Linked DNA regions of Homo sapiens. The main gene of each other region encodes a partner of the protein of the gene in region 2 in a complex. Each region holds a gene or a part of one and is shown on either strand. Other genes may lie near its edges. A codon is read from its position in the direction of its gene.

Region 1 (7,000 bases), on a different chromosome or scaffold from region 2:
GTAGTCTGAAACACTGGCCACGACACCTCTAAGAATCTCCCCCATCCAACCATCACTAGCTTTGGTCTTGAATGCCTTTGAGAGGGCTGATGAAAGTATACAACAGTATTTAGGCGAGCATAATGCTTAAAATTAAGCTTTATGTGCATGATTAAAATACTGAGATGCCCTTTCATACCCATTTCTTTGGCAAAAATGTTAAGTTTGATAGTACCAAGTACTAGTTCTGATGCGGGGACAAAGGAACTCACACAGTGCTGGTGGCATGGTGAGTTAGTAGAACCACTTTGGAAAGCTGTCTGCTGTTACCTAGTAAAGCTGAACATGCATTTGGGTGGGCATAGGTGGCCTGGCACTGGCAGTGGCACCCTCAGGGTCCCATGGAGCCAGCTCCTGGCTTACCGTTCGGCAATGGAGAGTGCCATGTTCTTCAGCCTCTCCTTGTTGGATTGCGGGGCACTGATCTGGGGGACGACAGGGCTCAGCAGTTTGTTCATCAGCTCCAGTACCTTGTCAGCATTCTGCTCAAGTTTTTAAAATTAAGGAAGCAATCAATAAAGTAATCAATAAAAGGAACAACTATATAATGCCCCCTACCCACCAAAGAGAACTTTCTGGGGTGACATTTTTTACCGCCTCCCAAGTTCAAGCAATTCTCGTGCCTCAGCCTCCTGAGCAGCTGGGATTACAGGCATGCACCACTATGCCTGACTAATTTTTATATTTTTAGTAGAGACGGGGTTTTGCCATGTTGGCCAGGCTAGTCTCGAACTCCTGGCCTCAAGTGATGCGCCTGCCTTGGCCTCCCAAAGTGCTGGGATTACAGGCGTGAGCCCCTGCACTTGGCCTATAGCTGTTTTTTTGTCTACTTTTCTCAGTTGATAAAGGAGAGAATGTAATCTTGTTTAGGTCATAGAATCCTTAGCAGTTATCATATGTTCTTAGTCATCATTTGTTCTTCGGTAGAAACATGTATTCTAGTCCTCTCAAAACGCCCAGCTAAGGTCTTATTTTCTTTCACTCCTTCCTGCACACTGATGTGGTCTTATTTTCTAACACCACTGTTCCCCAGTGTGTCTGTGGTTGCCAGGGTCAGCATAATGTAATTTTCAACAGTGGCTTCACCATCGAAATGTGATGGATGCTAATTCTGCTGCCAAGTGAGACAACAGTTCAATGCCTGCAGGACATCCTTTCAATATGTTGTTTGGTCAGAAAAATCTTATGGGCAGAAATAATGCTGTAAAATGGGAATTCTGTCCTGACTGGACCATTAACTGTCTAAGCACTAGAGCAAATGCCTCTGCAGGGAGGGTGCTACAACAATGACACTGTCCAAGTGGCTGCACATTTAATGCCAAAAGGCCAGCAGACCTGTGAAGTGCAAAAGAAGGAAGTGGGCACACTTTACCTTGGCAAGGTCATACAGCTTTGCTGCCTCTTCAAACAGTCCTTTATTTTCTGCCACAGAAGCAACTTTGTTGATAATAGGCTTTGTGTCACTAGTAAACTTATCTATGACTCCAGGCTGACAAGACAAATTATGGAGGGGGAGGAAGAGAGAGACGGGTGCACAGAGCTATTATTTTAAACACAGAGAAGCAATTAGGATCCAAAAAATACTTCAAGTGGAATTGCTTGCCCTGGGCAACGCATATATTTCATCAGCCAGACTCTGGCTTTCTTAAAGATATAAAGTCCTATTAAAACTATAAAAGAGACCAAGGAAACTACACATGAAAGGGCAGACTTACTAGAAGCACAGAGGAGTCAGCAATAAGACATCTGTGCTTTCTAATTTTCCAAAATGACCCAGAGAGTCAGTGAAATCAATGATTTTAAATTTGCTGATAAGTAGGAACTAGAGAGAAAAATCAGGAGGCTTAGAAAAAATATCTGAAAAATTTTGGATTTGCTTTCTAAGACAGATGGCAAAAGGAACTCAGTGCTGAAAAAACACACAGCAAGTGGTAACAGGACATTTCTTTTTTTTTTTTTTTGAGACAGAGTCTTGCTCTGTCTCCCAGGCTGGAGTGCAGTGGCGCAATCTCGGCTCACTGCAAGCTCTGCCTCCCAGGTTCACACCATTCTCCTGCCTCAGCCTCCCGAGCACCTGGGACTACAGGTACCCACCACCACGCCTGGCTAATTTTTTTGTATTTTTAATAGAGACAGGGTTTCACCGTGTTAGCCAGGATGGTCTCGATCTCCTGACCTCATGATCCACCCGCCTCGGCCTCCCAAAGTGCTGGGATTACAGGCGTGAGCCACCGCGCCCGGCTGGTAACAGGACATTTCTTAAAAAAAAATCACCATCACCACTCAACAGCAACTAAATGGTCAGGAGAGCATGAGAGAGGCCTTAGGCACCCTGGGAGAATGAAGGCAAGTGCATAACATCTCTGCCTGGCCATTCTGCTTCTCCACTAGCGCTGGACTCTCAGGGCTAGACCAGGTCAAGGTGGCTGGACCAGGTTGAGGTGACTTGCCCTGCCACTTGGGAGGTAGCAGAGGATAAGGTCTTATCTATGTTTCTAGCTCTGTCAACTCACATACAGTAGGAGCCTCCTGGCCCCAGTGCAGCCTGTTAAAGAAGAAACTATGCAAAGCACTCAGCACAATGCCTGTTGATTGTCACTGCCCAATAAGCAAGGCCACTGTCATCAGCACTGTCACTTGCCTTTCTTCTGAGGTAGATGGTGTGAGCAGTGTGAGCTCATCTACAGATTGCTGGGTCCAAATCACTCATTTTTACAAACGAGAAAACTCAGCCCCTGAGGGACAAGTGACTTTCCAAGGGCCACAGGGAGATTCAGGGTCATGACTGGTCTCTGACAACAGGATCTCTGACCCTCCTGCCATGACAACCAATGGGCATAGTGAGTCCTGAAATCCCTCAAGCTTCCAGAAGTATTTCCAGGGTCACTGTGGAGTTCAAAGCCCTTGGAAACTGCATTTTGAAGGAGGTCAAGTGCATGTCTAACTTTCCCATCTTGGGAGAATGGGTGCAGTAATCAATTTCTTTTCCTTGCATGTTTTCTGAGCCAAGAATGGCAGAAATGTATAATAGCATTCTCAGCTCAAAAAATGACAGGCATGAACAAATGAATATTCTGAACATAATAAAAAAGCTATGTAATCACAAATTAACATATTTTAAGGAGATATAAGTGTGTGTAAAACCAAGGTCATCATTTGGGCCCATAATTTTCATTCCATTTTTTAAATTAAGCAACTCTGTTCAGATTTGCATCTTTAGTACCTTGAATCTTAAAATCTAAGTGTATTTTTTGATATTTATAAATCCCCAATGGCTAACGAACATTTCTCTAAGGATGCATTTAACTCACCTTTCTACTTCCGTCATTCTCTAGTTTCCCAAGAATCATATCGAACTGTGGAAGGAAAAAAGTTTACTCAAATTATTGGACAAAGATATAAACATATTCCATAAGTCTTCAGAGAAAAAAGAGGGGAATCAAATGGGATGAATGGGATAAGTCTTAGGCAAACTAAAAATCAGTGTGACTGAAATAAATATTTTCATTGTTAGAAACCAAAGAAACTCCAAAAACTCCCTAGGCCTTATCCACCACAACCATATTGAAGTAAACACGCAATACGGAATGAGCATGGGACATGCACACTGAAAACCATGGGGAGGAGAGAAAAGGAAACCCACTCACCTCTCGGCTTTCAATCACAAGCTCACTCACACAGCGCAGAAACATGTTTTCTCCTTGACTATCTTTCTCATCCCTGTAAGGGAAATAAACAACTCAGTTTCCAGTCTGGACATGAGGTCTCTAATAGTCATTCTCAGAATGGCAGAAATTGAAACTAGCTGAAGTAAATGGTCAAAAGCAAATGTTACCTGAGGAAATAGAAGTACTGGAGGGCCTCCCTTGGGTCCGTGGACTCAAACTTCCGGGTGTACAGCATGAGGAGCCGCACGAAGTTCAGCCGCCGCAAGCAAGGAGGGTCACCAGGCTCGTGGCTGACTGCATTGTGGGGGTCAGAATGGGTCACAACCACACTGCCCCTCTGACCCATGCAACCCAGAAACTATGGAAGCTGAATCCACAGACCCAGCAGCATCTACTCCTGCAGCCCAGTCAAAGTTTGCTAATATAAGCTTTGGCCAGTCCCTTTTACCATCCTATCCTCAATTCATCCCCAGGCCCAGAGTGGAGAAAACAGCACTTTGCCATAAATTACTAATATGCTGGTCTTTGAGTGAAAACATAATCCAACTGACGATTATGGCATGTGCTCTGGGATGACTTTGCTGCAACAATAAGGAACCTGCAGCCATTCATCCACATTTACTTCCTCTCTCTCCCCTGACTCTCTCATCCCAGGCAGGTATGCACATGCCTGGCTGGGGTTTCCAATGTCATTAAAGCCAGCCCTAATGGGAATCAGACCCATAACTCTAGGGGCTGCTTCTTCAGCATTTTCCAGGCAATCAGACTGGCCACAAAGCTAGTACTTTGAACATCACTTTATATACTTAACTTTCAAGGGAATACTAATGCTGGGGGGTGGGGGGGAAGCAGGAACCCTTAACACTAATCATCTAAAAAGCTCAACTGTCCACATGCTCTAAAATGACTGGTACCCTTTGCTCAAATCCTTATTGGTTGTGGTTTTGTGGCCACCGTCGCCCCAAGGGGGACGTGCTGTGGTTACATTACTGTCAATCCAATCCCAAATACTCACGGAGCTGAGCACTCTGTCCAGAGGACTTTAAAAGCAGCTTCAGCTCAAACAGCACCAGTGCTACATGGACAGCATGGCAGCGCAGCCGCTCCATGCGGAAAAGAAAGGCAACTGCTGCTTCAAACTGCGCTGTCAGGAACAGGACTTGGAAGTAGAGGAAGGGTTGCTGGTTCACCGTAAAGTGGGACTCGCCTGGGAGAGAGGAGAGGAGAGGAGATAAAACCAACTTAGAAAGAAGGGGCTCACTGGTGGCCCAACCCCCAGGCAGCAGCCCTGTGAGCCCACAGGACTTGCTGGACAGGAAGAAAGCACCAGATTGAGTCTGAATTGATCAAGGGGGCCCTGAATACAGTAAACTGCCATGTGAAATGTGACCTGGCTCCTCCACCTTCTCTAGACCTCATAACATTACTGGAAACTGTGACTGTGCTGTAAAACTCCAACTGCTTGCATTAGGTGGGAGAGAAACAGAGCTAAGGACCTTAAAATGGACCACAGAGAGTGTTTATCTCCTTTACCCTGTTAAGTCACTCAAGGAGAGAAATGAAGATTTCAAAGGAGTTTCAGTTTACTCACAGTCACAGAAATCTGAATGCAACAACTGGTAACCACTATTTGGAATCTTCTTTTCTTCTCAGTTTTTAAAAAATACGGGAAAAAAGAAGAAAGGCTGTTTCTCTCTCCTTTGTGCTCAGATCTAGTGACTGGTACGATCGACTAGGAAGCAACAGCTAAGTCTTCTTTTTCTCTCCCTGAGCATATGTCTACTAGAACAGTTCAAAGAATTAGAGAAAACAGATTATTGTGTATGACCATATAAGTTTTATGTATTTCTTAAGGCCACATGCCCTTTATTTGAATTTGGAATGGTAGTTTTGTTGTGTTTTGCCTTGACAATCTATAGGAGTTTTGGAAGAAAGACAAAAGTTCAGAGATGAAAAATTTTCCCAGAGGAAAACTGAAGTAGTCACCTTAAGTGGACAAGAGAAGGGAAAGGTGGTTATGTCCAGAATCTTACCATAGTCTTCCAACAACTGCTTCTGGAACTGTGAGAGAGTGAGCCTGTCTTGTGGGGAGCTGGTGCCATCGTCGTCAAAACACACTTGGTTCAACTAAATCCCCAAGAGAAACACATGCATTGGTACAAATGACACCCTGAGCCACATGCACAGAGTTGTAGCTGTTCAGCAGCCATGCTCAATGATGTCAGCTAGAAGCTGTGTTTAAGGCTATGGTTATGAGCTGGGAATTACACAACAAAAAATGGGGACAGGAGACGAGGAACCCACTGGTCCTGATCACTGTATTGGCATCATACATTAAGCAGGTAAAATCTTTGCGGGGACTTGAGCACAGAAAAGGGGTAAAGCCCTATGTGGGCAGGGGAAACAGTGCCTACCTTCAGCCACAGGTAATCCTCAGTTTTGTCCGCCACTTCACTCTGGTTGTCGGTGACGTCACATCTGCCAATGATACAGTACACGGCCCGCTTGTAGGGATCTGTATTGTTCCTGAGGGCCCTACGGTAATGCAGCCGGAGCTTGTTTTCCGTAGCTGGGGACAATCTACAGACATAAGGGAACAGACAGATAGATACATACTCAATAAAAATCCTCAAGGGCATCTGAAAGCGTCCCAGGTCCCAAACACATAAAAGCAGGGAAGCCTTCCTTCATCCGGGGTAAGAGACACTGTCTCTGCCCCATCCCCTCCCCTCGGTACCATCGCTTTAACCTGACTTGCAACTACCTGCACCTGTATCTATTGGCCTGCCGGTTTTCTATTTGCTGAGGCCTTCATGGGCAGGTGAGAAATGCCAGGGAATTAGAACTCCATTGCACAACCCAGCAGCACTCAAGCAGTGATGGACAGGAGTGAATCCTTCCCTTAACTGTCTTAGCCCCTCCCTGGCCTCCACACTCCCTTATTCATGTGAGATCACCTCCTAAATAAACAACTTGCACTCAAATCTCCTTCTGGGGGAACCTTAAGACATTAACCCTACTTTAAATTCTAACATGAGCAAGACAGGGGCTTCTGGTTTGAGGCAATCTCTTGATATGACATTAGTAATGCTGCCAAGAAAAGTATCCTAGTTTTTCACAAGTACAGCTACAGTAACCGCCATCATTTCTTCTACATACATGTACATATATATAACCTCAGTTTGAGTATGAGCTTAAGTCCAATTACATTAGCAAAATCCAAGGAAAATTAATGCTTAGCAGTTCCTTAATGCAAGAGAACTTAAAGACTTAATGAATCAATTCAATGATTA
Region 2 (8,472 bases):
GGTTAGTTTTTTTGCGTGCTTTTTTTTTTAAATTTTTATTTACTTTTTTCTTGAGATAGGGTCTTGTTCTGTCACCCAAGCTGGAGTGCAGTGACAAAATCAGCTCCCTTGCAACCTCGAATTCCTGGGCTCAAGCAATCCTCCTGCCTCAGCCTTCCGAGTAGCTGGAACTACAGGCACATGCCTGATTTGCTTAGTTTAAAATCTACTGTCTTGCTATTGTTTCTTATGTTCCATCTTTCCCTGTTATTGTATTATTTCCCTTCTTGCCTGCCTACTTTTTCTATCACTATCATCTCTCACCTAGATTGCTACAAGTAGCCTCCTAACTTGTCTCCTTGCTTCTAAGCTAACTTTTACTCCCAAACTAGTTGAACCCAGCAACAGTCTCATCCTTATTGTCTTCCACCTTTTCTGGGTAAAGACCAATTGTGACAATAACCTACAGGGCCATGTAATACATCTGCCCCCATTACCTCTCCTCTCTGACCTCATTTTCCACTATTCTCCCCCTCACTTACTCCATTTCAGTCACCATCCCCTTATTCTTCCTTGAACACCCCAGACACACTGTTCCCTCCGTCTAGAATACTATTCCCTACCTCCCTCACTTACAGACTTTTGAGTAAAGTTTACTTGCCCCCTAACTATCAGTGGTAGGTGGAATAAGCTGGGTAGGTCCCCAAATGATGTCCATGACCTAATCCCTGGAACCTGTGAATGTTACATTACATGGCAAAGGGAATTAAGGTTGCAGGTGGAATTAACCCTGCTAATCAACTGACCTTAAAATACAAAGATTATCCTAGATTATCTAGAAGGGCCCAATGTATTCACAAGGGTCTTTAAAAGAGAGAGGGAGATATGACTACAGAAGAATGGTCAAAGAGTTACAAAGTTGCTGACTGTGAAGATGGAGGAAGGGAACCATAAGCCAAGAAACATTAAGTAGCCTCTAGAAATGGAAAAGGCAAGAAAATAGATTATTGCCAGCTGGGCGCGGTGGCTCAAGCCTTTAATCCCAGCACTTTGGGAGGCCGAGGTGGGTAGATCACAAGGTCAGGAGTTCGAGACCAGCCTGGCCAAGACGGTGACACCCCATCTCTACCAAAAATACAAAAAAAAAAAAAAATTAGCCAGGCGCAGTGGCGAGCACCTGTAATCCCAGCTACCCGGGAGGCTGAGGCAGGAGAATCACTTGAACCCAGGAGGTGGAGGTTGCAGTGAGCCGAGATGGTGCCACTGCACTCTAACCTGGGCGACAGACCAAGACTCCATCTCAAAAAAAAAAAGAAAAATAGATTTTTGTCTAGAACCTCCATAAATGAACACAGCCCTACCAATGTCTAGATTTTAGCCCACCAAGACCCATTTCAAACTTCCGACCTCCAGAAATGAAAGATAATGAATGTGTATTGTTTAAGCCACTTTTATGTTTGTGGTAGTTTGTTATGGCAGCAACAGAAAACTAATACATTACCCTATTTAAAACTCTAAGTCTCTACCCCCTCCCCCCCTTTGCTGCTTAATTTTTTCCTCCACAAAATGTAATACCTTCTAACAAATGTTATAATTTACTTGTTTTGTTTATAAATGTAAATTCTGCAAATAAATGTAAGTTCCATAAAGGCAGGGAATATCTATTTTGTTTACTATTTCCCAGAGTACACAGTTAGGTGCTCAAATATTTGCTGAATAAACATTTGATGGGATTATACACATATGACGACATATGAAGAACTGTGCTAAGCATAATGATGATTATTAAAAAGCCATTAATCTTAAAGAAAAACTAGGTATATAATCAGTGGTTGCTTCTATTCAACGGCATTTAGATTTATAACTATGCATTAACATCTCTCAAAACACCTTTATTATTCAGTGTCTTAACTATTCCTTTTCATCCCAATTCCAATGGCTTTTTTATTGACAAGTTTTAATAACTAAGGAGATACTTCAAACATCTATTAAGTATACAATTTCTTAAAAAGACATTCTGAATATTCACCCCACCATACCTTTAGGGTGATTTGATTCAGAAAATAATCAATATACAAAGTATTTCCTTCCTGAAAGAAGTTATAGATTTTGGAAAATCTCCAAGTTTGAAATATAAAATAAAAAATTTTGGCAGTTACCAACAAACATTTTATATTAAATTCATTCGAAGAATAGAGAAGTATTTGGTGTCAGAGTTGTTTACTCCGTGATCACACCACTGCACTCCAGCGTGGGTAGCAGAGCCAGACCCTGTCTTTTAAAAAAAAAAAAAAAAAGAAAGAATCACTTACCTGTTCCAGGAGTAGATGTAACTCCAACAAGAGGACTCTGCATTACTGAAATGTTTGGCTACACAAACAGAAGAAAGTGTTATGGTAAAAATGCAAAACATAAATACAGTAAGTGTTAAAAGGCTTCATTCAATGGATAACTGAATTTTTATCATGTGCTAGAGATGCCTCTAATTAGCTCAAAGTACAAAGGCACTCTTTTTTCCCCATAAGTTAAACAGTATTAACCTAAAATTTACTAGATCCCTTAGTATTTGTTTAAAATAAGAAAAGTCATATTATGTTAAAAAAAAAAAAAAAGACTATCTTCTGTAAAAGGTGACATGTTAACTATTTGTTTTTAGTTTCTAATGTACAATATTTGAAATAACAGAGATAATGGTAATTTTTAAAATGACCAGGTTCATACAGAAAAACAGAAGGGTGACAAAATTTGATTTTCAACAGATACTTAGAAACCATGAAACACTATAGATTCAAATCAGTCTAAACAATAAAAGACAGCATATCCCTACCACTACCAGTAGAAAGTTCCAAAACTGGTAAATTATCCATTTTAGTTCCTTTAAATATAAGAAAATTAAGGATTAAAATAGTTTAAAATCCTTCTAAAACAAAGACAATATCCAATCAATAAATGAGAACAGAATCTCTCTAGAACTCAATAAAGATTTTTTAAAACAGATTCTAATTAAACTAAGGAAATCTCAAATAGCTTCATTTAGCAACCAGAACTAAATGCTGAGAGAATGTTGGGAGAGATATAAAATTTATTCCTCAATTATTAATGCCAATTCTTTCATGATTAGAAAGCAAACTGAGCAAATTCCAGGGGGCATAACTAATTTGGGCTCTAATCTAGCAATAATATTCTTACCAACTTTCAAATCAAAAACATTCTCTATAAATTATGACCCACGAGTCTTTCAAACATTTTGAATACAGCAATATCTGTAAGCCTTTGTCTGTATCATCAGAGAAGTAATAAAACCTTGCACAAATTTAGAAGCCAGTGGTTCTTGCAACAAACAATTTTTTAATTTTTTAGTTTTTATTATTTTATTTTTGAGACAGGGTCTCACTCTGTCACCCAGGCTGAGTGCAGTAACACGATCACAGCCCACTGTAGCCTGAGCTTCCCAGGCTCAAGCAATCGTCCCACCTCAGCCTTCTGAGTACCTGGGACTATAGGTACACACCACCACATCTAGCCTTTTTTTTTTTGTATTTTCAGTAGAGACAAGAGTTTCGCCATGTAGCCCAAGCTGATCTCAAACTCATGGGTTCAAGCAATCTGCCCAAAGCCCAGCACAGTGGGTCACACCTGTAATCCCAGCACTTTTGAAGGCCAAGGAAGGTGGATTACTTGAGCTCAGGAGTTCAAGACCACCCTGGGCAACAGGACAAATCCCATCTCTACAAAAAATACAAAAGTTAGCCAGGCATGGTGGTCCACATCTGTAGTCCCTGCTACTAGGGAGAAGAGGTGGGAGGATCACTTGAGCCCAGGATGTCGAGGCTACAGTGGGGCATGACCATTTCACTGCACTCTAGTCTGGGTGATAGAGCAAGACCCTGTCTCAAAAAATAATAATAATAAATAAAAATACATAAAAATCAAGCAATCCGCCCACCTCGGCCTCCCAAAGTGCTGGGATTACAGGCATGCACCAACACGCCCAGCCTTCATACCAAACTAATCATAAGCTTTACTTATCAACCTTTAGAAAACCATCCCAGACCAGGATATCTATCCATTAGGAACAATAAATTCCATACGTGTAATTTTACCATTTCTAGTAGGCACATTTTAAAAGTACAAACAGGTGAAATTTAGTAATATTTAGCCAAACACATCCAAAACATTATCATTTCAATATGTAATCAACATAAAAAAATAAGATACCTTACATTCTTTCTAAGTCTTCAAACTCTGGTGTGTATTTTATACTTAAAGTGTATCTCAATAAAGACTAGCTATATCTTTAGTATCAATAGCCACACTTAGCTAGTGGCTCCTGTTGGACAGGAAGGCAGGTCTAGAAGTGTTGGGAAGAAACAGTAATCTGTTTACCACAGTGAATGAATTTTGCTTTACTTGACAAGTAAGCCTAGTATGCCAGACATATCAAGCCTATAAATAGCACGAATCCACTGAAAAATGCTTTCTAATATTCTTGAACTCTCAACTTCACTAAATACAATTTAGGGAAAGGCATAAAACATATATCTAAAGCAAACAGCAGACATATCTTTATATAAAGAACTTACCAACTTAACTGATAAACTTTGTTTATATGTCCTACTAAGCACAATAATAATAGGAAACAACACTTGTGTCTATGAAGCTACTAAATTTTCTACTTAAAAGAAAAGTCGGCCAGGCACAGTGGCTCACATTTATAATCTAGCGCTTTGAGAGGTCAAGGTGCAAGGATCACCTGAATCCGGCAAGACCTCATCTCTACAAAAAAAAATACAATTAGCCAGGCATAGCAGCACGTGCCTATATCCCAATAGGACAGTTGAGGCAGGAGGATTGGTTGAACCCAGGAGTTCAAGGCTGCAGAGTTATGACTGTGCCGCTGCACTCTAGCCTGGGCAACTGATCAGGACCCTGTTGGGGACCCTAAAAAAAGAAGAAAATAAAGACAAGTCCATACTACTTCTCAGCTGACGAGTGCCCTAGATCTAGATGAAACTCTAAATTTTCATTTGTTCTTTCACATAATTTTTAAATATTAAATATTAAACTTCTTAAACAATCAGAATGATTTAAACCATAGTCACATTCTACATGTATATTAAGTAGGTTGGAGCTATGGGCAGGTGGATAAGGCATACCTATAAACACCTGAGAATTACCTATGAGAGAAAATCTAGAGTTCTACACTGTTAAGTACAGTTCATCATCAACACAATTTAAGTAGATTCTATGATGTGTTTAATGTTTATTCTGTGCAACACAGTTACATTAAAACAGACTTCAGGGAAACATTTCAAAGTATTGACTCTCACTGAACAGACACATAAAACCATGATGTTGTTCATTGGGGATCAAAAGGGTATTTATATTACCTGTCTTCTTGAAGTTAAAGGTGTTGATCCAAGTCCTGGGCTAGAAATGTCATCATATATACTTCTAACTGGTGGAGCGCCACTTTTATCTTTATGAGCTGGTACAACTGGTTGTGGTGGTGACCCACCTACAGTGTACAAAAAAAAAAAAAAAAAAAGGGATTCTTCTTTTTGGTAAGATTTTTTAAATTTATATTTTTGAAATACTGACTTAAAATCTTGTCTGTTAGTTCTTTTCAAACTTTAATATGCTGAACAGTCACCTGGGGACCTTGTTAAAATTCAGACTCTGATTCAGAAGGTGTAGGGTGAAGCCTGAGATTATACAGTTCTAATAAGCTCCCAGGTAATGCCAATGCTGCTGATCCATAGACTGCACTCTGAATAAAAGGATTCAGAGTAAGTAGTTAATGAAAATCTTAGTTTTCAGAAAACACATGTAACTTTTGCTCACTCTACAAAACGCTTAACATTTAAATACAAAACTTGATCCCATTTCTCACTTGAAAGTAGGTACTAAACAGCTCCAGTCTGTAGATTCCTGAATAAATACAATTCCCTATGTAGAGTTTGACTATCTAGATTAAGTAGATCCCATTCATGTTTCTCACAGTAGAAATATATTTAAGTACATAATAAAGATGTAGTAAAAGGACCAAGTTCTGTGACATAAAGATGTCTTTATCGATCAGAGAACATGCAATGTCAAATAGTGATGCAGCCCAGGCCATCGGTAAGACTAATGTCTGAGCCTGGACTGTACAGCTTAAGCTATTTAGAGCACAGTCTATGGAATAAGACTAACCTGAGGTTTATAGCGCTCGCTCACTTACTAGCAAGTGAGCTTCAGCAAATTACTTATTGCATTTAGCCTCAGTTTTCTCTTTTTAAAGATGGGGATACTATTACCTACCCTTTAAGATTGACAAAATAATGATTAGCATACTGCCAGGCTCATAAGCAATCAATATACGTTGGCTACCATAATAAAATAACACATTTGAAATTTAATGTTTAATGTTAAATGAATTACTTCAAATATAATTTATAATTCTCCCTGATAAATCCTAAATAATAAACCATTTTAAAGCAAAAATACTTTAAAGGGCAATTAAGGTAAAAAGAGTTTTCACTTGAACTACTACTAAAGGATATTAGCTCACAATTAGAATTCAACACTTCTGTATCTAATTCTCACTACTCAGTTAAAACTTCGAAGTCATTTTTTAAAGTATTTCTTTGCTAAAGGAGTTCTGTAATAAACACAGGCTGCATTTACAATACTTTGCCCTGACAATCACAAATTCTGTGTATAAAACCTCCCCCCCAAGTTTCCTTAAACACGCTATATGTGAGAATCTCAATTCACTAAGACTAAAGGCAGAATTCGTATCTACATCTTCAAGTTACACTTCTTTTGACCGATTATTTCCTATTCTTGTATCTTAAGATGAATTACTTTAAATGAATTCAGTTGAAGCTAAATGATGGTATTTCATCAACTCTGTGAGGCACTCTTCCCCCACCACACTCTGACATCTCCGACACAGAAATTTTACAAAAAATGGCATCTTAGCATTGTGTCATATTTAGGGTTATCTTTCCTAGTGGTACTTAAAAGCCAATTCAAAGGCATCTTAGAATGAAAAAAACATAGAATACATTTTAGTGGCTCTAGAAATTATAGCTTATACTTCTTACACCTCTATTCCAAGAGCCTTAAAAGCTTTGCTTTATAATAGACACATTGCTTAATTTTTTTTAATTAATGTATTGATGAGGGTGAATGCTGCACCACTACACTTTTAAAAATTCTAGCACAAGCTTGTCCCACCCATGGCTTGAACACCGCATGAAGCCCAGGATGGCTTTGAATGTTGCCCAACACAAATTGGTAAACTTTCTTAAAACATTTTAAGATTTTTTTTGCATTTTTTTTTTTTTTTAGCTCATCAGCTATTATTAGAGTTACTGTATTTTATGTGTGGCCCAAGTCAATTCTTCTTCCAATGTGGTTCAGGGAAGCCAAAAAATTGGACATCCCTGTATCTAGCATGTCTATAAAATTATTTTAAGCAATTCACCTACCTGCAAGTAAAGGTGATCTCATTTCCATTACTCCTACTGAAGGGCCACTAATTGATCGAGGTTGTGGAGTCACCGGAGCTGGCAAATCCCCCATTAAAAATCCAGGTAAGAACTGGGCATTAACTCCTGGCTTTGGAGATGTGGGTGAACCCAGCATCATTGGTTCAGATCCTACATGAATCAAAAAATAAATTAAGGACTTTTCTGTTACAGTTTCTGTTACATGTTGATGACAAAAACATGCAAGAATCTAACATAATTTTGCAAATTTAATCAAAACTTTTAGATATAATAGAACCATAGTTGAATTTATTATTTTAAAAGCCAACAAAAAATATTTCTAGAAAAATGTAAAGTTATCTTGTATTCACTTTTTTTTTTTTTCTGAGTCCGAGTCTCACTCTGTCACCAGGCTGGAGTGCAGTGGCGCAATCTCAGCTCACTGCAACCTTCACCTCCTAGGCTCAAGCGATCCTCCCTCCTCAGCCTCTCAGTAGCTAAGTCTACAGGCCTGCACCACCACGCCCAGCTAATTTTTGTATTTTTTTGCAGAAATGGGGTTTCACCATGCTGCCCAGACTGCTCTGGAGCTCCTGAGCTCAGGTGATCCACCAGCCTTGGCCTCCCAAAGTGCTGAGATTAAAGGTGTGAAGCCAGTACACCTGGCAGCACAATATTTATCTGTGACAGCTATTTTTGTTTACATTATTTCAGGGGTTTAAAAATCACACTAATAACTTCTTTCCATTTCCGAATCAGTTTGGACTATGTAACAACCAAAAACAAGGACAGGCTGCACTACTTATACATACAAAGCTTAGCATATCAAACACAATGGGTTAAGCTTGCTAAATTGTTTCTTTTTCTTCCCCATAAAAAGTTCATCATTATTGTGATAAAACCGTAACCATGCATATATTAGAGCACTTACAAAATAACAGTGATAACTAGCACCCTAACTCAGAAACATGTTGAAAAGAGTCGAAAACTTATTTTTGTATCTTTTTTCTTAATC

Evidence for each region. The genes of interacting proteins can lie anywhere in the genome.
Region 1: the proteins of NUP35 (region 2) and NUP93 are in contact, whole or in part, in a crystal structure (PDB 7MW1), measured with the Homo sapiens proteins. Residues at the interface, in NP_612142.2 of Homo sapiens: Ala88 (codon at 5,447), Pro89 (codon at 5,444), Pro90 (codon at 5,441), Val91 (codon at 5,438), Arg92 (codon at 5,435), Ser93 (codon at 5,432), Ile94 (codon at 5,429), Tyr95 (codon at 5,426); in NP_055484.3 of Homo sapiens: Tyr266, Tyr269, Asn402 (codon at 6,169), Ala407 (codon at 6,154), Asp408 (codon at 6,151), Lys409 (codon at 6,148), Thr410 (codon at 6,145), Glu411 (codon at 6,142), Tyr413 (codon at 6,136), Tyr448 (codon at 5,744), His452 (codon at 4,906), Phe453 (codon at 4,903), Val455 (codon at 4,897), Asn456 (codon at 4,894), Leu461 (codon at 4,879).

Annotation. Positions count from the first base shown.
Region 1 is NC_000016.10:56,831,129-56,838,128, reverse strand, and holds part of NUP93 (nuclear pore complex protein Nup93), read right to left. Parts: intron 6,288-7,000; coding exon 6,122-6,287; intron 5,835-6,121; coding exon 5,741-5,834; intron 4,915-5,740; coding exon 4,723-4,914; intron 4,002-4,722; coding exon 3,875-4,001; intron 3,760-3,874; coding exon 3,687-3,759; intron 3,396-3,686; coding exon 3,351-3,395; intron 1,529-3,350; coding exon 1,412-1,528; intron 522-1,411; coding exon 403-521; intron 1-402. UniProt on the Homo sapiens protein: Plays a role in the nuclear pore complex (NPC) assembly and/or maintenance. May anchor nucleoporins, but not NUP153 and TPR, to the NPC. During renal development, regulates podocyte migration and proliferation through SMAD4 signaling.
Region 2 is NC_000002.12:183,127,443-183,135,914, reverse strand, and holds part of NUP35 (nucleoporin NUP35), read right to left. Parts: intron 7,629-8,472; coding exon 7,458-7,628; intron 5,498-7,457; coding exon 5,370-5,497; intron 4,921-5,369; exon of another isoform or gene 4,798-4,920; intron 2,350-4,797; coding exon 2,292-2,349; intron 1-2,291. UniProt on the Homo sapiens protein: Functions as a component of the nuclear pore complex (NPC).